7 linked regions of the Homo sapiens genome follow. The protein of the gene in region 5 purifies or fractionates together with the protein of the main gene of each other region. This does not show direct contact. Each region holds a gene or a part of one and is shown on either strand. Other genes may lie near its edges.

Region 1 (3,500 bases), on a different chromosome or scaffold from region 5:
CATCTCCAAGATACTTCAAATATGTATGTGCAGGTACTCCAAAGTCCAAAACACTTCGGTCCCAAGCATTTTGAATAAGGGATACTCAACATGTGCCAGAAAATGTTTGGGCATGCTATAGAAACCATTTTCTTCTAGCAAAGTTACTCATCCCAGTGAACTCACAGGTATTTATCTAAAGTAAACATGGGGAAGGATAATTTACTTCCCACCCTATGTGCAGCTCATTACGTCAAAATAGAGAAGTGCTGTTATCTCAGATGTGGCTTTAGAAATTTAATTTTTTAAGCTGATCTTTAAGTGTTGGTGTTCTGCAGAGTGCTTACTGCTGAAGTGAACAGAATTCATGAGGCAATTAGAATTTGAAAATAGTGATTTAGAAGACAGTGCAATTCATGATTTACCTAAAAAGAAAAAGGCTTAGAGGATATACATAATGTTTTCTAAAGTTCAAAAGGGATATTTTTGGCTGTCTTTGGAGTTAAAGGTGGGTCAAGATGTCACAACATACTCTGATAACCTGGAATAAGTCCTGGTTTGGGGGACTGAGTTTTATAATTTTTTTTATGGGGGGGGCAGTTTGCCTGTGCATTTTATGAAAACGTTTCCTCATTGAAATATTTAATAATATTTGCTAACGCATCTGGAAAAAAACTTGTTTTAAAATTTTTTAGTTTCCAGCATTAGAAATTACATGCTAAAGCTGTACCAAAGTTGGTGTACAATTTTTCTGAAAGTGCTTAAAGATAAGATTACTGGCTTAACAAACAAGCTTTGTTCCCTGCATTAGTATCAAGTCTTTGAGAAGCATTTTGTGTTATGAATCAGCTGGCAGCCTTCCCAGAGCAAGTAGTGGGACAAAAGTTACACTGTTTTATACCCGACTTCTAACCTGAGTAAATGTTCATCTAGCACACAAAATTAAAAAGTTATTCCTATCTTGAACAGGGGAAACTTTTTCCAAACATGTCTTTTTTGTGTGTTTGTTTTCATGGTATTCCTATGAAATGAGTCCTGTTAGAAGATGTGTATATTTTTCAGAGGATATTTGTGACTGTTTTGACCTTGTTTCTGTTTTCTTTAGATTGTGGTATCTGAACGGGAACTATTTGGTTCTGTTGGTGTCATTGGTGGTCATTCTTCCTTTGTCGCTGTTTAGAAATTTAGGTGAGCAAACTCATCTCTAAAGAGAATTGAAATGAGCCTCTCACCAGTTAGTTGGGCTTTCTCTGAATAGAAATTAATCAGAATGAAAAAGCCCTAGAAAGTAGAAAGGTATATCTTTGGGACTTACAGCATGCAAAATTTAGGAGCCAAAATATTTAATTGACACTATATGTTGTGCTTTGTAAGAAATAATGCAAATGATAGTTTTTATTAGCTTGGGTTATGACAAGTATATTTAAATAAATCTATAATTTAGTATCATAAGAATTAGAAATTTAGTGCTATACACATACTTTAGTGCCTAAAGTCTTCCCAGCAGAATTGAGTTATTCAGTGGGAAAAAGATATTTGCCTTAAATCTGTTTCATTAAACTAATACTGATTCCTGCCACCCCTCCTTATAGGATATTTGGGATATACCAGTGGCCTTTCCTTGTTGTGTATGGTGTTCTTTCTGATTGTGGTGGGTATGATTTTTTTTTTAGAAAAAATTTTTTATAAGCCCTGCCATGTCACTTAGTTTAACACATGCAAAATAATATATTTTTAGGTCATTTGCAAGAAATTTCAGGTTCCGTGTCCTGTGGAAGCTGCTTTGATAATTAACGAAACAATAAACACCACCTTAACACAGCCAACAGCTCTTGTACCTGCTTTGTCACATAACGTGACTGAAAATGACTCTTGCAGACCTCACTATTTTATTTTCAACTCACAGGTAACTAAATATGCTTATTTTCTCAAAAGAAGAGTTTAGGGAAGAAAAGAGGGAAGCTATTCACTCCCAGGGTAAAGGGAGGAGGATAATAGGTGCTTTATAGAAAACATGTGATTAGCTAATTATTGAGGACTGTGAAGAAAGTTTTGGTTTACATCTGAAAATAGATTGAGAATTGAGATAATCATATGGTGCTAATAATTGACACATTCAGAAGTGAGGATATTGATCATACTTCATGAACAGATTAGAAGAATGGAAGCTAATTACACAAAGGAAACTTAGGCTTTGATTCTAAGATTGTTTACATAAAATATATGCTGCGGAAATGTGACAGCATGAGTTCGTTACATCAGATTAAGTAGATTTTTACGTTTTCTTTCAGACTGTCTATGCTGTGCCAATTCTGATCTTTTCATTTGTCTGTCATCCTGCTGTTCTTCCCATCTATGAAGAACTGAAAGAGTGAGTATTTCATTTTTACATAAATTTGAGAAAATATTAGACAATTGCTGTAACTGCTGCTGAAATATATATTTGAATTTTCTCTTGAATTACATAGCCGCAGCCGTAGAAGAATGATGAATGTGTCCAAGATTTCATTTTTTGCTATGTTTCTCATGTATCTGCTTGCCGCCCTCTTTGGATACCTAACATTTTACGGTAAGTAACGCCTCCTTTACCAAAACAAAAACAAAAACAAAAAAAAACGCTTATTGAAATGAAGCTGCTAGTTTTCTATGTGTAGTTCCATCACTTTAAAAATAGTCTGTTTTAATATATTTCATATTTGTGATGAGAAATTAAATTTAGAGCTTAGAATTTTCTGTAGTGTATTTAATCAGTAATTTCTAGAATCCAGGTTTGAAAATATCATTAATCATTTGATGGCATATTTGTATGATATGCCAGCCTCTGAGTTCATATTGCCTGTCTCCTCTCCCATCACCTTCAGACTATGTAACACAAACACAAATTGCAAGCCAAGCCAGGAGATTTAGCTGCTTAACTCCTGTTGTTTTTAATGGGAGTCATGTGGCTAAATCTCTGTGGTATTTAGAAAAATTTTCCTTCAATGTTACTTTAATTGCATTAACTATAATTCCAAACAAATCTTATTAGCCTCTTAGTTTATAGTCGTTTTGTGAGTAGCTAAATAACTGGTGCACATTTTGCTGTTAAATTTTCTACTTGGTGTCCAATGAAAACAGCCAATCAAAGTTTTTTTGGTCTTTCCCTGTAGAACATGTTGAGTCAGAATTGCTTCATACCTACTCTTCTATCTTGGGAACTGATATTCTTCTTCTCATTGTCCGTCTGGCTGTGTTAATGGCTGTGACCCTGACAGTACCAGTAGTTATTTTCCCAGTAAGTAATCACTTGCTCTGCTTTCAGTAGGAAGGAGTTTTTAGACATGTGAATATTGGTGAGATTTTCATCTTCTGGAAGAAGGGAAACACCAGTAGAACAATACTAAGTTGGTGGTGGTTTTGAAGGGGCTTTTTAAAAATACAGTGTATATTTTCAAAATACCCTGGGGACATTTTTTTCACCATAAGATATAAAATGATCTTTAAGTGTTCAGATGTTCAGGAAACAGCAGAGAAAGAGGCAC
Region 2 (3,500 bases), on a different chromosome or scaffold from region 5:
GGACAGTGGACAGACTGGCTAAACCAAGTCCTCCCTACCTGACTTACTTTCCTTTGTGCTTCTTGATCTTAGGTGACCATATTTCCACCCAGGGATATAAATGGGAGAGGTTTCAGCCATAAACTATTCCTAGGTCTTTGCCTTTCTCATTCTCCTTTCAGCAGAATCCTTTTCTTCTTCCTTGCTTCTATAATGTAGCTCAGCTTACATTATTGATGTACGAGGCAATTTCAATACTACCTGTAAAGTTACATTTTTAAAAATGTCTCATTTACTGCAGGTTTTAGGCATGAGTCTCTTCCTTTGGTCTTTGCAGCTACCCTACTCTTGAAGCTCTTTAAAGCCCTGGGCTTCAGGGATACAGCTCTTTGTACCAGGCTGTTTCACTCTCTGAAAGAGGAAGTTCTTTTCTGCGTTGACTTGTGGTCAAGATCATAACTTTTGGTGCAGACTTCTGGTCTTTTCTCTCAGGAATCCTATTTTGTCCCTGGCCCTTAGTCACATCTTCTTCCCAGGGTCCTCCTGAGACATTCTAATTCTGAATCTGTTTATTCTGGATCCTCTTTCTGTTTCTGATCACAGTCACTTAGATTTATAGCATTATAATTTGTGAGAGCTGAAACAAGTTTTAGAGGTCATTGTCTATTTTATTGATCAGAATTTGAGAACCTGAAAGATTATAAAATGATAAACAGAAGATTGCACAATTTGTGATCCAAATTGGTGTCCCCAACTCTAGCTCAGTCTTCCCTGCCACCAATATTTCTTCCATACTTCTTGCCATTACAACATCCCTGAAAAATCTGACCATGTGTCATTCTGTTCTCTCTCTTATCCACCTTCACACATGTAATCTTTGCTGATTTCCAATGTCTACAAGGGAAGATCTAAACTTATTACACAGATCCTTTGTAATATGGCCCTAGCTTATCATTCATGACACATCTTCTGTCATCTCATTCATACTCTAAGTTAAGCTGTGTAAAGCTTCCTGAACTTTTCTCTTTTTTGTTCCCACTAAGGTTGCCAGATAAAATACAGAATACCTAGTTAAATTTGAATTTCAGGTAAACATTATTGCATGGGATGTACTTATAGTAGAAAAATTACTTGTCGTTTATCTGAAATTCAAATTTAACTGGATGTCCTGTACTTTTATTTGCTAAATTTGGTCACCCAGTCCCTGTATTTTGCATATAGCCCTATTCTCTGTGTGGAATGTCTTCTTCCTGCCCCATCTTTCCTTTTGATGCAGGAGAACTGCCACTTATAAGACCTGGCTCATGTGACCTCCTCTATGAACCTTACTTGACTCCCAGAGAAAGATGTGGTTTTATAACATTTGGAACATACCACTATTGTACACCTGCTACATTGGATGTATACATTTGGTAAATTTCAGAGCTAGTTTTTAGAAGTTTTATATGATACATTTAAAATTCCCTACATGGGGAACAAACTTTCCCTTTGACATAGTAGTACCGAAATATTTGTTGATAATTAGTGCTCAAAAATACCAGGTCTGTCATTTTTATACCAATTATGAGTACCAGTCTCTGCCCCTAAAATGAGAAGGAAACTTTGGAAATGACTTTTTCAGAGTATAGTAGACTCTTTAAGTGACTATTTATTTTAATACAGCATGCTTCAAGGTATTTTTCTAGCATTTATTTACAGAGCAAATATAAAAAGCATACTTATTTATATTATTGCTGTTTTTAAGGTGAAAATGGTTCTTTCCAAATTGTATGAGAATAAGAAAATAGCTAGTGCCACCCACAACATCTATGCCTACAGGTGAGTAATCATCACAAGCTTTAGTATACTCAGTTTGTTAAAAATAGAGGGAAATGATGCATGATTTTAGAAAATAATAACTATTGTGTATTTTTTCCATTGTAATAGTAATAGACATGGAATATTTGGAAACTGCAGAAAAGATAAAAAAGAATTGAAGGGAAAAATCTGGCATTTTCTGCCATCAAATGTAACTGACAATATTTTGTTTTTTGTTTCATTTTTTTCTCTGCAAAGTTTAATTTTTCCCAATGCTTTATTTACCCTTGTATCCTGTTTTTTTCTTAATTAAACAAAAGCACTTTTTCATATTGTTATAACTGCTTGATAAATACTGTTTAATGGCTGTAAAATATTTGAGATGCCATACTACAATTAACCATTTCCTTTTAGTTTTTCATGTTTTTCACCATTATAAAGAGTGGTCCAGGGAACATCTTTGTATACTTTTTAGGTTATTTCCTCAGGATAGGTTCTGGTTGCTTGAGATTCTTTTTTGAAATGAAATGGGAATATAATAAAAGGAAGAAAGAATTCTTAGAAGTAGAATTATCAAAAAGTGTGAACAATTTTGAAACTCTTGATATATAGCCAAATTTCTTGCAAAGGTTTTGTTTTATTTTGGTTTGGTTTTTGAGACAGGGTCTCAAAAACCCTGTTGCCCAGGCTGGAGTACAGGGGCGTGATCTTGGCCCAAGCAATCCTCCCACCTCAGCCTCCCACGTTAACTGGGACTGTAGGTGCGAGCCACCATGCCCGGCATAATTTTTGTATTTTTTTGTAGTGACAGGGTTCTGCCATGTTGCCCAGGCTGGCCTCAAACTCCTGAGTTCAAGTGATCTGCCAACCTTGGCCTCCCAAAGTGTTAGGATTTACAGGTGTGAGCCCAAATGTTTTTAAAACCAATTTATGCTCCTGTAAGCAGTGAATTAAGAGTATTTCTTTTACTACATGAGTTTCAGTTTTGAGAATTCAGGTTTTTATATGCATCTTTGCTGATTTGTAAGTGAAGAGATGAAGGGCATTTGAAAAAATACGCAAATTTGTAAGACTTTAAAAGTACATAGTTTAGGCCTAAAATAAATCAGAACACAGGGACTTGGTGTAAATTTAAAATGTGATTGAGACTATTTGTAGAATCTAGGCTATCTGAAACTGAAACTCAAAAATTCATCATTTTGAGTAGGTGAGTTCTTAATATTACTAATTTCACATCTCTTTAAGTGCCAAAACTTACAAACAATTATTTGTTATGTAATTCCCCTCTTAATAGAGTATCACTGGATAGAATTTTAATGTTTTCTTAAGCAGTTATGGCCTTCAATAGGAAAATGAGGAATTAGACTACTCTCAGTCATTAAAATGGGCTGTAAAAATTGTAATGTTCATTTATTCTACATGTTTTTTGAGTGCCTACTCTGTGCCAAAACTTTATGTAAATTAACTCTTATTAGTTAGCAATTCTAGCACTGTAAAAAGGTTAGCTTTTTCAAGATCCCATAGTTAAGTGATGGAGCTGAATTTGATAATCCAATTTCATTTGTTTTCTTTATTTCACTCCTCTATGGCTGTGGCTACAGCTTCAACAATCTTGTATCTAAGCTATGTAAAAAAAGAAAAAAGTACTCATAGTATTTTAACTTTAATGTTCATAGTAGATGGTCAGTAAATATTTATTGAGTGGATGGATGGATGAAGGGAAG
Region 3 (3,500 bases), on a different chromosome or scaffold from region 5:
ATGGAAAAGGGAGATATGGACCTGAATGTGACTGGTGGTCTTTGGGGGTCTGTATGTATGAAATGCTTTACGGAGAAACACCATTTTATGCAGAATCGCTGGTGGAGACATACGGAAAAATCATGAACCACAAAGTTAGTATGTTTTACTTTTGTTCAAATTAATGTGGTAAATAACACATATAATAAAACCATTTTTAAAGAGAAAATATTTTTCTAAAAACAGTGAACAATCACATTTCTATCCTAGTATGGGACAGGACAACATAAATAGTCAAAATCCATAAATTATTCATAAGTTATTAGTTCTAATTTTCTTGTATTTTATTAGAGATGCCGCTAAGTAGGAAATTAAGTGGTCTCCCCAGTAGAATAACAAAGGTCGTAAGTAGAGAATTTAGATCATTGCTTACTATAGTATATGTATAATCATGACTAGAATATGTGTAAAAAAATTTTCAACTTTAGTGGTAATAAGTGCAATACAAATTTAAAATAAGGATGAGATACTTTTTTTTCTTGTCAAATTAGCAAAGATCAAAAGAAAAATAGTACTCTGTACCATAAATAATGCAGTGAGATGGGCATTCTAAGACATTAATAGGAATATAAATTGGTGTAACCTTTCTGTTCAGGAAGTTTACAGGTGTGCACCTAGAGCCTTAAAAAATGGTTAGAGGTTTTGATTGAGCAACTTCAGTCTAGGAATCTACCCTATGACATTCTCAGTAGAACAAAGATATATGTACAAGGATACCTATTCTAACGTTATTTATGATCACAGAACACTAGAAGCAACACAGACACACAACAAGAACAAATTAATGAAACGTTAATATATTTAGTACTAAGTGAAATAGACTGTTCATAATAATAAGAAGAAAGGTTTTATTAGCAGTCTTAGAAGATTGTGAGCAGTTGCAAATACTTAGAATATGAATATCCGATAGAAGGGAATGATAATCTATTCTTTTTAATTTGTTCTAGTGAAGCAATTATGATTAGTTGCTTTACATGTATAAAAATCAGTTTTATAGGGTTTATATTCTTCTTCCTGTTTGCAAAGATAATGTTTCATATAGTTATAAAGAGTTGAAAGACTGGAAATAGCAGCAGGGTTGTAAATAGCATGTACATCATTTGAATTAGAAAAAAATATTGTAGTATATATTTAACAGCACAGATTACAGCTTCAGTTCAAATTCTGGTTCTGCCACTTCCTAGATGTGTAATGTTGAGAAAGTTACTTGAATTCTGTGTGTCTTTATTTCTTCTATAATATTAGCATAGTAGGAGTACCCACCTAAAATGACTGTTTTGAGGGTTAAATGAGTAACGTACTTTAAATAGTGTCAGATACATATTATGTCCTTTAAAAATATTTATTATTAGTTAATCATTAGTATGTAACTTATATGACCATTATCAATCATCTATCTTGATTTAAATAGAGTCAAATTCCACTACTTTGAAGTAATTTCTCTTCATTCTGATAGCAGTTTAAGATATCTAAGGTACAATGTATTCTTCTTTCTATAGCGCATGCATGATTGAGTCATATATGAAATTAAAAGTCCTAGGAAAATGATCTTCTGTCATTCATCCCTGTATTCCTTTAGTATTAGTACTTTGCACCAACATGCAGTTATTAGATATATTTAAAATAAAATGTATTTTTAAGAAAATAAATAAGTCAACCAACTACTTAGTATGTTAAACACTGATTTATATTTTGTTTCTGTTTTTCTCTGTTTAGGAGAGGTTTCAGTTTCCAGCCCAAGTGACTGATGTGTCTGAAAATGCTAAGGATCTTATTCGAAGGCTCATTTGTAGCAGAGAACATCGACTTGGTCAAAATGGAATAGAAGACTTTAAGAAACACCCATTTTTCAGTGGAATTGATTGGGATAATATTCGGAACTGTGAAGCACCTTATATTCCAGAAGTTAGTAGCCCAACAGATACATCGAATTTTGATGTAGATGATGATTGTTTAAAAAATTCTGTAAGTATGACACTGTGAAGAAGTTCTGTCCCTCTGTTTCTTTCTACTATGGTTATATAGTAATTTTTTGGTTTATAAGTATTTTGCTAGGATGATTTTACAATGATCAGTTATTAGTCAGTGATCATGGCTTCTGGTGCTTATTCTGTCACAAATCAAATTAAGAAGAAAGTTAACTGAGGTGAACATAGTTATTTGTGACTAAGAACAAAATTAAAATTCAAAGTTTTACCTCTTAGATAAGTTATGCCATTAAGCTTCGTAAGAGAACAAATTAGATATTTAAAAAAGCAGATTTTATGATTGTAAAGTGCAGAGGTTGGCAAATTTCTCCCTAAAACCATAAAACTGGACAAAATTATCAAAATCAACCATGTCAGGGCCTGATACAACAATTGAAGAGAAATAAATTGAGAAGCATTTATTTGTGAAAAACTGCTGAACTTTAGTTTAAAGTCACATATACCACACACGTCCATCCCCACTACTGACTTGGTCTGGGACAGTAGTACTAGTAGCATGGAACTGGATAGAAAAATCAGCAGCTTTGCTGATACAGAGGGCAGATTCCAGGACTAAATACCCAAGCCCAGTGTGTTGCTGCTAACAATAGCAAACTTGGTAGGAAATCAATAGGGAAAATAGTCCACAGACGTGGTATAGCTCTGAGGTATAGCCCTGCCTGAGGTGAATACAGACCTCAAGCCAATTATTCGGCCAGTCCAATAGCCAAATAATTCAACCATTCTTAACTTGTGAGCCATGCCAAAACAGGCCAACATAGTATATTGACCTCTGCTATAACCCTTTAGGTTATATGAGATTAAAATTTAGGAAAATAAGAACTTAAAATTTTTGAGTTTTTTGCCTTTTTAGCCTTCCTCTTTTTTTTTTTTTTTTTTTTTTTTTTTTTTGAGACAGAGTCTCGCTCTGTCTCCCAGGCTGGAGTGCTGTGGCACAATCTCGGCTCATTGCAAGCTCCGCCTTCCGGGTTCACGCCGTTCTCCTGCCTCAGCCTCCTGAGTAGCTGGAACTGTAGGCGTGCGCCACCACACCTGGCTAACTTTTATGTTTTTAGTAGAGACGGGGTTTCACCGTGTTAGCCAGAATGGTCTTGATCTCCTGACCTTGTGATCCGCCCTCCTCAGCCTCCCAAAGTGCTGGGATTATAGGCATGAGCCACTGCTCCCGGCCCCTTTTTAGCCTTCTTAATTTGAGCTTTTATTTTTATTCAGTTATTTTATTTACTATGGCTTTAATCCTGTACTAAAAATTTTTATGTTAATGTTATATGACTTAACAAAATCTTTATTTTTAATTTTTGTGGGTACATAATCGGTACACGTTATATAACTTTTCACTGAAACAGTGAATACTATTTCAATACAATAAGCTGTGATCACTGTTTGATAACTGATAATTGTAAAACCATCCTAGTACTGTATTCAAGGCAGATAAAAATTTCTCATACTTTCCTGTCTAAACTTCACAAAGAA
Region 4 (4,288 bases), on a different chromosome or scaffold from region 5:
GAATTGCTTGAACCCGAGAGGCGGAGGTTGCAGAGAGCCGAGATGGGACCACTGCACTCCAGCCTGGGCGACACAGCGAGACTCTGTCTCAAAAACAGCAACAGCAACAACAACAACAAAAACATCATAGATAGACTTGGGTAGCTTAAACAACATTTATTTCTTATAGTTCTGGAAGTTGGAAGTCTGGGATGGGCCAGCAGGATTGGGTTCTTGGTGAGTATCCTCTTCCTGGCATACAGATGAGGAAGCAAGCTCCCTTGCCTCTTTTTGTAACGGCACAAATCCCATTCTTGGGGGCTCCACCCTCATGACCTAAGCATCTCCCAAAGGCCCCGCCTCCAAATACCACCATGGGCGGGGTGGTTAGGATTTCAACGTACAAATTTTGGAGGGGACACAAACATTCAGTCCATAACAACACCTTTGCAGTGGGGATGGCAGGAAGTGCGGCCACCACGGTGCAATGGCTTTTTAATGTGCCCATTTGTCCAGGCTGAGCTATATTCCTAGAATTCCCTTTTCCTGTATGTTTCCAGTTTGAGTGAGCCACAGGGGTGTGCTTCTGCAGCCAAGTTGAAGCTGTTGTCATAACCTTGGGCAGATGACCAGAGAAAATACGAAGGAGGCAAGTATGAAACGTGTATTAATTTCTTTTTTAAAAAAAGGCTTAATTTGGGGCTGGGGCCGGGTGCGGCGGCTCACGCCTGTAATCTCGGCAGTTTGGGAGGCCGAAGCAGGTGGAACACTTGAGGTCAGGAGTTCGAGACCAGCCTGGCCAACACGGTAAAACTCCGTCTCTATTGAAAACACAAAAATTAGCTGGGCGTGGTGGCGCGTGCCTATAATCCCAGCTACTGGGGAAGCTGAGGCAGGAGAATCACTTGAATCCGGGAGGTGGAGGTTGCAGTGAGGTTGAGGTTGAGATCGTGCCACTGCACTCCAGCCTCGGCAACAGGGTTAGACTCCATCTCAAAAAAAAAAAAAAAAAAAAAAAAAATTGTGGCTGGGCATGGTGGCTCACACCTGTAATCCCAGCACTTTGGGAGGCTGAAGGGGAGGATCACTTGAAGCCAGGAGTTCGAGGCTCCAGTGATCTATGATTGTGTCACTGCACTCCAGCCTGGGTGACAGAATAAGACCCTATCTCTAAAATAAAATAAAATAAAATAAAATAAAATAAAATAAAATAAACAAAAAATAGCTTAATTTGTATTTACAACAGAAGTTACTTGTCTTGGAAGCCAGGCACGCACGTAAATCTCACAGAAGGCTGGCTGTCTTCCTTCTCCTGGCCTCCCTGCCTCCTCCCTCAAGGCTGCCTGATTCTCTTCTCCCTTCCTCTCTGCGGTTCCCTCCCTCCCACCCCCTCTCCCTGCACCTTTCTTTATCTTGGAGCCTCTCCCATCTCTCCCTCCCTCTTCCTCCCTACCCCACCCTCCGACCACCCCACTTCTTCCCCTCCCCTCACACTTCCCTCCCTCCCTTCTCTCGTCTCCTCCCCACTGCGCCTCCCTCCCTCCTGGCCTTCCTTCCCTTCCCCGACTTTGCAGATTTCTCTTCCCCCAGGCCTCCCTCCTCCACCTCTCCGCCCCCTCCGGGCTTGGCTCTCCCAGGAGGCTACGACTGGAGCCACTGGTCCCGCAGGATCCCCGCGTCCTCGGTCGCCGCGTCCACGTCCCTCTCGCGTCCCCGCCCGGCGCCACGCCGCCTCCTCTGGGTTCGGCCTCCGCGCGGTGCAGCGCAGTCTCAGGCCGCGGGACAAGGTACGTGCGCGTCCCCGGGGCACACAAGCCCACACAAGCCCGGGCCCCGCTCCTCTGAACTCCCGCGTGTGTTCTGACTATGGCAAAGAAGGTCTTTGCCGCGTGCACGGGTAAGGAACTTCCCATAGTCCGTTTTCAGAAGCTGACTTTCATAAAAGTGATACGTTGTCCTTGCAGAACAGCAGCCTCCACGATCCCATGCGTCCGAAGCAGCCGCTGTTTACATTTTGGTATTTTCCTGTAGGTGTTTCGCCATGCATTTTAAAGACATAGTGGAAATCACACCGTATGCAAACTTGCGTTCGTTTTGGCCATTTAGCACGGAGGAGCCTTTCCACCATGCCGTTAAATACTCCTTGTAACTCTCTTCCTGCAGTGAGACATTCTGGTTGTAGCGTTTTTACTAATATAAAACTATTAAAAAACTGAGCATATTTGCAACTAAATCAGCATCCACATTCGACAGCTTTTCTTTAGGGTGGGTATTAAGAAGAGAGGTGCTGGGTCTATGGATCTAAGAGTGGGACATCCTAAATGCTGGGTAGGTGTGCCAGGAACGACTGGACAGTTTACACCCCACAGCCATGTGGGTCGGGCAGGCCTTGGAAACACTGGGCACTGAGATTTATGTCCACTTGCTGATGGAAGATGCCACCTGTTGTTTTCAAAGCCCATTTAAAATAAAGTGGTTAGTAATGAGCCTCGCCGGTATCCGGGGAATCCTGTCCAGGCCTGGGAACCCTATCCAGGCCTAGGAACAGCCAGAGAAAAAGCAGATTCTGCAGGGGCGTCGTTGGCATGTCTAAGAGGGCCATTGTGGGCTCATCCAGGTAGCTTCCTAATTCATGCTATCTCGACCATAGACACTTGGAAAATACAAGCATGGCTGCTGAAAAATAAATATTTGGAGAAGTTTGATGTTTGTAGAATCATCTAAGGATAAGTACTGGCCCTGCCTTCCCTGCTGCAAGATTGAAAATCACTTGCCATGCAAGTTCCTACAATGTTTAAGCAGTAAAGGAGAAACCTCCTGCCTTTCCCATTAGACCCCACTTTCCTGTGTTGTCTTGGGGTCCTCTGTAACCCTGAGCCCTGGATGCACTTCCACGTGGTTTCTATTTCTAAATTTCTAAAGCTTCCAGAAATGTATTCCTCCCTTCTCTCCTCTCCTCCCCGCTGCGCCTCCCTCCCTCCTGGCCTTCCCTTCCCCTACTTTGCAGACCTCTCTTCCCCCAGACCTCCCTCCTCCTCCTCTCTGCCCCCTCCGGGCTCAGGCTCTCCCAGGAGGCTGGAGATGTATTCCTAGACTTCCCTGCTTGTTATAATCCCAACTGCACCAGTCCCTTTTGCTTGTCAAAATCTGTTTTCTCTATTTCTGTTGGAGAACTGCGTTGTGCCTGGAAGTCTGACTTGTGAGTTATTTGAATCCTTAGGGCGTGAAATCAGGAAAACCACACCCTCACCATACTTTATCACCTCTCTTACCTGTCTGACTGCCAGTGTTAGAAAGGGAATGTTTGATTACATTGTTAAAAGATAATTTTCAGCCAAAGGTGAAATCGTGACTTTTATACAGATATAAAAGTGATAAATATTTTATTTTATTCATTAAAGAGAGAAATAGGCAGATGTTGTAACTGGTTCAAAAAAGAAGTCAAGAAGTGCAAATGTATACGGAGTAAAGGAGTGCCTTGTGAAGGTACACGCAGGAGAGGAGCATACCCTTGGAATTTGCAGATCAAACACTCAACTGTAAGATTGGGCACAGTGGCTCATGCCTGTAATCCTAGCACTTTGGGAGGCCGAGGTGGATGTATCCTGAAGTCAGGAGTTTGAGACCAGCCTGGCCAACATGGTGAAACCCAGTCTCTACTAAAATACAAAAATTAGCCAGGCGTGGTGGCATGTGCCTATAATCCCAGCTACTCAGGAGGCTGTGGCAGGAATATCGTTTGAACCAGTGGGGCAGAGGTTGCAGTGAGCGGAGATTGCACCATTGCACTCCAGCCTGGGCAACAGAGTGAGACTCCGTCTCAAAAAAAACAAAAAACAAAAAACAAAAAACACTCAACAGTGATCCCCATGGGTTTTGATGTGTAATTTTCCAGAGGGACATGCTTGTGTTAGGCAGAGTGAGGCTCCTTCACCCCTACAGAGTGACTCCTGTGGCCCCTCCAGCTCTGCCTCACACAAGCAAATCTCTCTGGAAAATTACACATCAAAACCCATGGGGATCACTGTTGAGTATTTGATCTGCAAATTCCAATTCCATATGCTCCTCTCCTGTGCATACCATCACATAGAAGTCATTCACACATATGCAGCACCTTGCAGCAATGTCTATGGGGAATCATGCATTTGTGCTGGTGGTGGCCAGTGTGGGCATTGCCGACGAACATGGCCACCAGGGTGTCCTGCAGGGCACTCCACAGAGCTAGGAAAAGCGTCCTGATTTCCAGAGACGTCACCAGTGGAGACCACAGAACTGACCTGGGGATGACCAGAAGGTGGCCCCAAACACA
Region 5 (3,500 bases):
TCTGTCACCCAGGCTTGAGTGCAGTGGCGCGATCGCGATTCACTGCAACCTCTGCCTCCCGGGTTCAAGCAATTTTCTGCTTCAGCCTCCCGAGTAGCTGGGATTACAGGTGCCTGGCACCACGCCTGGCTAATTTTTTTTGTATTTTTAGTAGAGACGGGGTTTCACCATCTTGGCCAGGCTGGTCTTGAACTCCTGGCCTCGTGATCGACCCGCCTTGGCCTCCCAAAGTGCTGGGATTACAGGCGTGAGCCACCGCACCAGACCCAGATAACTGAGTTTTAACTTTTAAATGCTAAAACAAAGTCTGTAAGTAACATTCTACAGGAGTCACTAAGTAGATGACACAAGGTTATAATTTACCCTGTGATCTCCTTACTATTTGAGTTTTGAGAGGATTTCACGGAGAGAGTAAATATTTTATACCATCTTTACAGATTACCTGTACTCACGAAACCTCTTTGAATGGATATTATATGAAAATAGTAGGCTGTGTTCAGTATTATTAGAATCAGAGTCTGTAAATATAATTTGATCTTTAGTCTTTCCTGTAGGGCATTGTGTTATAAATGAAGCAATGTAATGCGTTTCTTTTCTAAAATCTAGTTATTTGGAGGGAAGTAGTGGGCTAGACTTTTGAAAGTGTGGGTGGCTTACATGCTGACTTATTAAGGTTGTTAAAGAAGTTGCTGTTATTCTTGCAGAATGGAATCTAATTTTAATCAAGAGGGAGTACCTCGACCATCTTATGTTTTTAGTGCTGACCCAATTGCAAGGCCTTCAGAAATAAATTTCGATGGCATTAAGCTTGATCTGTCTCATGAATTTTCCTTAGTTGCTCCAAATACTGAGGTAAGTACAAGAAAAGTATTGTGTTGATTATCATGCCTCCTTCTAATGCAAGGGTTGGCAAACAATGGCCTGTTTTTGTATTACCTGTTTTTGTACTTAGATACAAGCTAAGAATTGTTTTTATATTTTTAAATAGTGGAAGAAAAATCAAAATAGGAATAATGTCACATAACATAAAAATTATATGAATTTCAAACATCACTGTCCATAAAGTTTTATTGCATCACAATCGTGCTTATTGGTTTATTTATTTACTACATCCGTTGTGGCACTATAATGGCAGAGTTGAGTAGTTGTGAGGAGACTATAGGGTCTCTAGAACCTAAAATATTAGCTGTCTAGCTCTTTACAGAGAAAATTTATTGACTCCTGGATTGGCATGATGTTTTTGAGATTTGTCGTGTGTCATACATCAGTAGTTTTTCCCTTTTTATTGCTAAATAGTTGTCTGTTGTGCAGATATGCCACATTTCCATTTGTCGTTTGATGGACATTTAGGTAGTTTACAGTTTGAGGTCATTATAAATAATGCTGCTTTGAACATTCATGTGCAAGCCTTTTTGTGAACTTGTGTTTTCATTTTTCTTTGGTAAATACCTAGGAATACAAACTGTATAAGTTTAACTTTATAAGTAACTACTAAACTGTTTTTCAAAGTGGCTATCCCAGCAGTGGCAATGTATGTAGGTTCCAGTGCTTCTACCTCTTTGCTAACACTTGATAATGGAACTTTTTATTTCTAGTGGATGTGTAATGGTATCCTGTTGTGGTTTTAGTTTGCCCTTTCTAATGAGCACTCTTTCAAGTATTCTTGGCCATTTTTCTACTTTCTTTGTAAAGTGTCTCTTCAGATCTTTTTCCCATTTAAATTAGGTTGTTTCATTAGTGTTTTGTGAGAAATCTTTATGTATACAAATCCTTTATCAGATTAATAGTGTCTTGATGATCAGACATTTTAAAATTTAAAGACATTCAATTTAACATTTTCTTTTCTTCTTTGGTGAATTTTTTTGTGTGTGTGTTCTCTTTAAGAAACTTTCGCCTTCCCCAAAGTTTTTGTCTTACTTTTTCTAGAAATTTTAGTTTTCATTTGAGTAGTTATATCTGTGGTCCATTTTGAACAGTTTTTGTGTGCAGTTGATATAGGGACCCAGGTTAACTTTTTTCTTTTTCTTTTTAGCTTCCATACATTTTTTTTTTTTTAACTACATAAGTAGTTATTTCAGCATTATCTATTGAAAAGACTTTCCTTTCCCTGTTGTTTTGGTGCTTTACAAACGGCTGTGTATATGTGGATCTATTTCTGGATTTTATTCTCTTCCTTTGACCTATTTGTCCTTATTCCAACACAATACTCTCTATTTCTGTAGCTTTATAATGATTCTTGAAATTAGGTAGTGTGAATTCTCCAGTTTTGCTTTTCTAGGAAAATTTTGGCTTTTCTAGGTCCTTTGCATATTCATAAATTTTAGAATCAGCTTGCCAGTTTCTACAAGACAGCATCTTGGGATTTTGACTGGGATTGCATTAAATCTGTGGATCAGTTTGGAGAGAATTGACATCTTGACAATATTGAGTCTTAATCCATGAACACAGTATTCTTCATTTTATTTAGGTCTTTAATGTCTTAGCAGTATTTTATACTTGTCAATGTAGAGGCCTTTCGTGTCTTTTGTCAAATATATTTATAAACATTTTATGTTATTTGATGCTATTGTAAATATTTTTAGTTGCTTTATTTAGGCATAATGAAACACTGCATATATTTTAGATACGCAGTTTGATAAGTTTTGACATGTGCATACACTTATGTAACTGTCACTACAGTCAAGATAGTGAGTATAACCATTACCCTCAAAAGTTTCCTTGAGGCTCCTTGTAAGTGCTCCCTCCCATCACACCTCCAAGTAACCTCTGATTAGCATTTTGTTAGTATACATTAATTTTTTGTAGATTTGTTGGATTTTGTATGCGTATGTTCATGTTGTTTCTAAATAAAGAAAATTTTATTTCTTCCTTCCCAATTTGGATGACTTTTGTCTTTTCATTTCCTTTTTTTCTTTCCATTTTTTTTTTCCTTTTCTTTCCCCTCCTCTCCCCTCCACTTCTTTCTTTCCCTTCTTCCCTTCCCTTTTACCTTTCTTTTTCCTTTCCTTTTCTCTTCCCTTTTTCTTTCCCTTACCCCTCCTTTTTTCTTCCCCCATCCCCTTTCCCCCTTCACACCCAATTACACCAGCTAGAACCTTTAATACAATGTTACTAGAAGTGGGGAAGCAGAAATCCTCTTCTTATTACTCATTTTGCTGCTCATCTTAGATTGAGTCTTTCCTGTTAAGTTTGTTGTTAGCGATAGATTTTTTGTAAGTGCCCTTTATCAGGATGAGGAAGTTTGCATTCATTACACTTTGCTGAGAATTTTTATTACAGATGGACGTTGGATTTTGTCAAATGCTGTTTTCCCATCTGTAGAGATAAAAGTTTCTCTTCATTTATTCTTTTAATATGGTTAATTGCCTGGATTGATTTTTGAATGCTAAACAGACTTTATATTCCTAGAATAAACCATTCTTGGTCAGATGTATTATCCTGTTTTATATATTGGCTAGTATTTTGTGTGGGAAATTTTGCGTATATCTTAATGTGGTATT
Region 6 (3,451 bases), on a different chromosome or scaffold from region 5:
TGGGTCAAAATCTGTAGTATAAAGAGGGCATAGGGTCTGGTATTGCTGCATATATCTCTTGATATTTTCACTTCTCACTGTTTCCTCCTTCTCCAGGTCTAACAGCTCAGGATGCTGTTTCTTATTTGGCTGAAGCCATTAGTTTCAACTTCTCCTTTAAAACCTGGAGTGCACCTAAAGTGCTCTTCAATCCTGTCATGGTCTCATTGACTAAGTACTTACTTTTAGTAGAGACAGTTTTCTGTCTGGCATCCTCACTTCTAACTTTCATTGGCCAGACTTCATACTAAAGTACAAAGAGGAAACTGTTTTTAAAACTTTTTGAAATGATAACCAGCTGCTACTTAAAGGCAATAATTGAGTGAGACTTCTACTTTCTGAGAATGTAGCTGGCTAAATTGCTGCAATTTAAAGCATATAGACTATATTACCATTAACTTGCTGAAATGGAACATGAGAAGTATAAACATGGTTTCAAACATATTTAGAAATACAGAAGCTTCTTAAATCAGGTTGTATTTATTAAAAACAAAATACAAAATAACTTGGAATTCAGATTATTGTGATGTTTATCCCCTAACAGGTCAGTCCTAAAGAAAAAGCTAATTGTTTCAAGGGTGGTAACGGAAGAATTTTAAGTAAGGATTATATTAAATACATCTAGTTTGATGCAAACTGAGTTTTATTCAATGTTGGAGGCCTCACTATGTTCCTCTAAGTTTTCAACCATTAACAACCCAAACCGGTTGTTTCCCTCATACCAACACTTGGTGTGTGCAGTGGTTCTCCCTCTGTTCTTAGAACAGCTGGTATTCTGTTTCTTCTGCCTTTTTTTTTTTGAATTTGATCTACCTTTTGGTAGGAATATTTCAGCGGGGGCATATGACCTTGTGGCATTGAATAGATATTCATAAAGTTGCTTAGCCTCAGGACATATGCTCAGGAGACTTTCTACAGAGGTCGATGCTAGCAGTTGCTGGCATAGTCCGTGCACCAGGCTTCCACTGTACAGTCTGTTCAAAGCAAGAAAAAAGTATGTTGTTAAAGAAGTAATTCAGTGCAACAGGATAACTACCATTGACATAGCTTCAACAAATGCATCTAAACAATGAGAGCTCTTATTGCTCTATAATATTATCGAAATTACTTAAGAATAATCTGTTCTTTGAAGGAAGGAACTGAGCTGGTATGACAAAGATTCTTTGCTGGTGATACTTAAAAACTTTTCATCAACAAATTACGTGATGCATGCTTAGTGGTTTTGCAGCTAGCCCCAGACTGAGCAGGTGTCTTTAACAAACACTTTAATTTTAAAGAAAAGGAATTTAAAAGGACCCTGATAAACCAAACAGGCAGTTTGTTAGAATATGAGAAAATTTATTGGCATCATTTGCAAGGTCATTCACTGAGACTAAAAACCTACTTCACAAATAGAAGATGGGATTAATTGGAATCCACAAGTTTATTATGGACAAAGCTGATAAACTGGTACCTTAGCAATCCATGTAGAACCATCATTTAATCAGTGTAACATCTCTGTGTAAAAAGCCTTGGTTATGCTAAGATTCAAGAACAATCCTGCTGTTTAAATCATTATTAAGAGAACTGTTTTGTTTTGCATTTCCTGTTTTGTTTTAAAAGGATTTGTGGTAACTAAAGAGGATCCAGTCAAGAATGGCCTTAAATTATTAAACGAAAGAAATAAAGAATCCAGGGGTCAAAGGCCAATTAGTCTTATTTGTGTTAGCTCAGATATAAGGCCCAGAGATATATTAACAACACTGTTTACTGCCAGGAGGCTTTTTACCTTGAAACATGTAAAGTCCCACCATATTTTGTATGCGTCCATATATCCTCATTCAAAGTATTGAAGGCACTGGGGCTGCAACAGCAAATAAAATAGACAAGCCCCTCCCCCCACAGAGTTTACATCTGAGTGGAGAGACAAACAAAACACAATCTATCTCCTTTTTATCTTCATCTCTCCCTCAAGTACCTCCTGGATGGTCAATTACCAAGATGTCCAATCCATTGATCCTATCACTTTTTTCACTGCTCCACACCCTACTGCTGCTGTCACTTCTTTTTATCATACCCAGCTTAAACTCCACAGACAAACATTATAATTACTCTGTGGCACATAGGCTCAACTCCCTTATTGTCCTTCTTGCCTGGTAAAGCAAACATCCTAGGTTAAGTTCACTTGGGCATCTACTCATCATCTCACTTAGAATGAAAGCTCCATTAGAGCTGAGATTCTGTTTTTGTCCCTACACCCTAGCACAGGGTAGGCATTTAATATCTGAATGAATGAGTAAGCCATATGCCAAGTGGTAAGAAATGCAATTAAAAAAAAATAGAGTAACAGGACTAGAGTGAATGAGGGTAGACAGTGTGTCTCACTAGGGTGGGTTATCAGAAAAAGGCTCTACAAAGTGACATTTAAAGACTGAGAGGAAAGGAGAGAGTTGTATCCTACCAATGATTGCCTCCCCTCTCCCACATATTAATGTATTACTTAAAGGAACTGATTTTTTAAAATTGGATTGAATCATGGAAACATTCTTTGAGAATATGGAAATAATTTAATATTTTTCCCGTTTCCAGCTCTTCAGCTGTAACAGTGACTCAAAATCAATTACATTAAGATTAGTTTTTTTTTGTTTTGGTTTTTTTTTTTAAGTAACTTTGTTGCTTTAAATATAAGTGAAAATACTGTATTTACTTTTGTGTGCTTCCATCTGAACTAAAGTTTCCCATGGTGCTTACCGAGTTAGGTCTGGCTCTGGGAGAGGAGTGGACAGCAGCTGGTTGAGATACATCCCCATCTGGAGACAGGACTGCCACTGACAGAAGATGTGAGCTGTGTCTAAGTCCAGTCTTGTGCCCAGCCGTGTCTGCGCCTTCACTCTTTGGAACTCTGCATACAACATCTTAGCACCATCTTCCTGCAGCTCTTCCTTACCTAAATAAAGAAACAGCCCAAGGGCAGTATTTCTAAAAGCACTGTAACAGCTTTTCATTTTCTCCACATATACTACAAATTCTATAAAGAAAGAAATTAATTTAAAAAAACTAAGATGTTTTTCTCTTCTGGCTTCATAAATGCCTTGCTGTATAAATTGAAATATTGATACTGAACTGTCTTTTTAATGATGACCTAACTTTATTCAACCCATCGGAATTTACTTTTTCCCTGAAATAAGATCTTTTCCACTGGTCTACTACCTGACCATAAACATGTCTGCATTTGAATTCTCTAAACCCTAAATCTGTGTCTATGAAAAATACAAATGACTATTAAATATTATTCTCTTTACTGTTCTCTTTCACCGAAACTCCCAAGCTGTGGTGCATTTGTGTTAAAGAAACAACCTGTGTGTTCAAAACACATTTTGACCTCTGTGTTTTATAGGAGGAAGCTAAAGTATGACTTGGAGAATTTGGCAAA
Region 7 (2,754 bases), on a different chromosome or scaffold from region 5:
GTGAAACCCCATCTCTGCTAAAAATACAAAAAATTAGCCGGGCGTGGTGGCGGGCGCCTGTAGTCCCAGCTACTCAGGAGGCTGAGACAGGAGAATGGCGTGAACCCAGGAGGTGGAGCTTGCAGTGAGCCGAGATTGTGCCACTGCACTCCAGCCTGGGCGACAGAGCGAGACTCTGTCTCAAAAAAAAAAAAAAAAAAAAAAAAAGAAACGATTGTTCTTTCTTCCTTTTTTGTTTGTTTGTTTGACACAGGGTCTTACTCTGTTGCCCAGGCTGGAGTGCAGTAATGCAGTCCCAGCTCACTGCAGCCTGAACCTCCTAGGCTCAAGCAATCCTCCCACCTCAGTCTCCTGAGCAGCTGGGACCACAGGCACGCACCACCACGCCTGGCTAATTTTTCTTTTCTTTCTTTCTTTTTTTTTTTTTAGACAGTTTCACTCTTGTTGCCCAGGCTGGAGTGCAGTGGTGTGATCTTGGCTCACTGCAACCTTCGCCCCCCGGGTTCAAGCGATTCTACTGCCTCAGCCTCCCAAGTAGCTGGGATTACAGGCGCCTGCCACCATGCCCGGCTAATTTTTGTATTTTTAGTAGAGATGGCGTTTCACCATGTTGGCCAGGCTGATCTAGAACTCCTGACCTCAGGTGATTCACCTGACTCGGCCGCCCAAAGTGCTGGGATTACAGGCGTGAGCCACTGTGCCTGGCCCCTAATTTTTCAAATTCTTTTTGCAGAGATGCGGTCTTGCTGTGTTGCCCAGGCTGGTCTCACGCACCTGGCCTCAAGCAGTTCTCCCGCCAAGGCACAGGGATTACAGACATCAGCCACCATGTCTGGCCCCAAGACATTTTTCTAAAAGACATTTTCTTTGAAGCTGTGTCCTCTGATTAGAGTTCTCACACTGTGGTTCTCACATAAACCACTCCCAGAATTCATTGTCTACAACTTCCTCTCTTCTTTTCTTTTTTTTTTGAATGAATCAACAGAGTAAAGGTACTTTGAAAGCAGTCCAACCTTTTTTGATTTACTCCCTCAGTCTTGTGCCTCTACCTGATTTGATAGCAGGTGTTTTATTTGGTTTTAACGTGATTCACCTTCATCAAGACTTTTCAAACCTTCACCCTAACTTTTATAGGAAGGAATATCTCCACACTTGCGTTTTCTTGGTTTATTTTATTTTTATTTTAGAGATGAGGTCTTGCTCTGTCACCCAGGCTGGAGTGCAGTGACGCGATCACAGCTCGCTGCAGCCTCCAACTCCTGGGCTCAAATGATCCTCCCACCTCAGCCTCTCAAGTAGCTGGGACCCACAAGTGTGTAGTGTGTGCCACCACAGCCAGCTAATTTTTAATTTTCTTTTCTTTTTTTTTTTTTAGAGGCGAGTCTGTATGTTGTCTAGGCTGGTCTCAAACTCCTATCCTCAAGCAGTCCTCCCGCCTTGGCCTCCCAATCCTTAGTTTAGTTTAATGATGATGAGTACCACCTGTAGAAACAGGTTTGGGAACTAACCTAGGTAACTTTTTTTTTTTTGAGACGGTCTTGTTCTTTCGCCCAGGCTGGAGTGCAGTGGCACGGTCTCGGCTCACTGCAACCTCCGGCTCCCAGCCTGTAGCAATTGTCCTGCCTTAGCCTCCTGAGTAGCTGGGATTACAGGCGTGTGCTACCACACCTGGCTAGGTTTTGTATTTTCTTTTTATTAATAAAGAGACGGGGTTTCACCATGTTGACCAGGCTGGTCTCGAACTCTTGACCTCAAGTGGTCCACCCGCCTCGGCCTCCCAAAGTGTTGGGATTACAGGTGTGTGCCTCTGTGCCTGGCCATCTGTGCCTTTTGACTTCTTTTCCTCATTTTGACATCAGCCCAGAGCTACGACATTTTTTTTTTTTTTTTTCGAGACGGCGTCTCGCCCTGTCACCCAGGCTGGAGTGCAGTGGCACGATCTCGGCTCACTGCAACCTCTGCCTCCCAGGTTCAAGCGATTCTCCTGCCTCAGTCTCCCGAGTAGCTGGGATTACAGGCGTGTGCCACCAAGCCTGGCTAATTTCTTGTATTTATAGTAGAGACGGGCTTTCACCGTGTTAGCCAGGATGGTCTCTATCTGACCTCGTGATCCACCTGCCTTGGCCTCCCAAAGTGCCGGGATTAGAAGCATGAGCCACTGCGCCCGGCCCAGAGCCACAACTTTAAGGAGGCCTCTCCACCACCTTAGCAGTGGCCGCCCCTCACACCGTCAGCTTGGCACTCAAGGTCTCTGCCCATTCTCCATCCCACCTAGCCTGCCCTGGCACTTCCTGAATCACACTGTGGCTTCTCATCACGCCTTTACCCATGCCATTCCCCTTACCTGGGATGCCCCCTTTGCCAAGCACTCGCTTGGTGAACTCCTACTCGCCCTTCAATACCCAATGCAAGACGCCCTTCCTCTGAGAAGCTCATCCTCACAATTCAAGCTCACGCACCCTGGCTTCTCTCTCACCCAGATGGATGTTATCCTGGGTATTGGTCTCCTTGTCCCTCTCCCTCCCCACACGGTGAGCTCCGTGAGGGCAGAGCACCCATTGGGACTTCCTTAACCCAGTGGTTACCACTTCCTCTATTTAAACATAAAACAGATTGAAGAGGCTAGATGCAGTGGCTCACGCCTGTCATCCCAGCTCTTTGGGACGCTGAGACGGGAGGATCGCTTGAGCCAGGAGTTTGAGACCAGCCTGGGCAACATAGCGAGATCCCGTCTCTACAAAAATTAAAAATGTT

What was found.
Region 1: the proteins of KIF20B (region 5) and SLC38A2 purify together in Homo sapiens (affinity purification with mass spectrometry; one large-scale study listed by BioGRID and IntAct). This does not show direct contact.
Region 2: the proteins of KIF20B (region 5) and IMPACT purify together in Homo sapiens (affinity purification with mass spectrometry; one large-scale study listed by BioGRID and IntAct). This does not show direct contact.
Region 3: the proteins of KIF20B (region 5) and CDC42BPA purify together in Homo sapiens (affinity purification with mass spectrometry; one large-scale study listed by BioGRID and IntAct). This does not show direct contact.
Region 4: the proteins of KIF20B (region 5) and CMBL purify together in Homo sapiens (affinity purification with mass spectrometry; one large-scale study listed by BioGRID and IntAct). This does not show direct contact.
Region 6: the proteins of KIF20B (region 5) and ASTE1 purify together in Homo sapiens (affinity purification with mass spectrometry; one large-scale study listed by BioGRID and IntAct). This does not show direct contact.
Region 7: the proteins of KIF20B (region 5) and YJU2 purify together in Homo sapiens (affinity purification with mass spectrometry; one large-scale study listed by BioGRID and IntAct). This does not show direct contact.

Annotation. Positions count from the first base shown.
Region 1 is NC_000012.12:46,362,774-46,366,273, reverse strand, and holds part of SLC38A2 (sodium-coupled neutral amino acid symporter 2), read left to right. Parts: intron 1-1,084; coding exon 1,085-1,167; intron 1,168-1,571; coding exon 1,572-1,630; intron 1,631-1,717; coding exon 1,718-1,885; intron 1,886-2,270; coding exon 2,271-2,350; intron 2,351-2,447; coding exon 2,448-2,548; intron 2,549-3,128; coding exon 3,129-3,253; intron 3,254-3,500. UniProt on the Homo sapiens protein: Symporter that cotransports neutral amino acids and sodium ions from the extracellular to the intracellular side of the cell membrane.
Region 2 is NC_000018.10:24,443,670-24,447,169, forward strand, and holds part of IMPACT (protein IMPACT), read left to right. Parts: intron 1-1,723; coding exon 1,724-1,797; intron 1,798-3,500. UniProt on the Homo sapiens protein: Translational regulator that ensures constant high levels of translation upon a variety of stress conditions, such as amino acid starvation, UV-C irradiation, proteasome inhibitor treatment and glucose deprivation.
Region 3 is NC_000001.11:227,143,993-227,147,492, reverse strand, and holds part of CDC42BPA (serine/threonine-protein kinase MRCK alpha), read left to right. Parts: coding exon 1-134; intron 135-1,755; coding exon 1,756-2,004; intron 2,005-3,500. UniProt on the Homo sapiens protein: Serine/threonine-protein kinase which is an important downstream effector of CDC42 and plays a role in the regulation of cytoskeleton reorganization and cell migration. Regulates actin cytoskeletal reorganization via phosphorylation of PPP1R12C and MYL9/MLC2.
Region 4 is NC_000005.10:10,305,103-10,309,390, reverse strand, and holds the start of CMBL (carboxymethylenebutenolidase homolog), read left to right. Parts: upstream 1-1,488; 5' UTR 1,489-1,766; exon of another isoform or gene 1,767-1,876; intron 1,877-4,288. UniProt on the Homo sapiens protein: Cysteine hydrolase. Can convert the prodrug olmesartan medoxomil into its pharmacologically active metabolite olmerstatan, an angiotensin receptor blocker, in liver and intestine. May also activate beta-lactam antibiotics faropenem medoxomil and lenampicillin.
Region 5 is NC_000010.11:89,704,590-89,708,089, forward strand, and holds part of KIF20B (kinesin-like protein KIF20B), read left to right. Parts: intron 1-704; 5' UTR 705-705; coding exon 706-852; intron 853-3,500. UniProt on the Homo sapiens protein: Plus-end-directed motor enzyme that is required for completion of cytokinesis. Required for proper midbody organization and abscission in polarized cortical stem cells.
Region 6 is NC_000003.12:131,013,375-131,016,825, forward strand, and holds the end of ASTE1 (single-strand DNA endonuclease ASTE1), read right to left. Parts: intron 3,339-3,451; exon of another isoform or gene 2,966-3,338; coding exon 2,770-2,965; intron 1,883-2,769; coding exon of another isoform or gene 1,808-1,882; intron 1,014-1,807; coding exon 683-1,013; 3' UTR 501-682; downstream 1-500. Other genes in the region: ATP2C1 (calcium-transporting ATPase type 2C member 1), read left to right, coding at 2,778-2,873. UniProt on the Homo sapiens protein: Structure-specific DNA endonuclease that specifically cleaves single-stranded DNA and 3' overhang DNA.
Region 7 is NC_000019.10:4,264,080-4,266,833, forward strand, and holds part of YJU2 (splicing factor YJU2), read left to right. Parts: intron 1-2,754.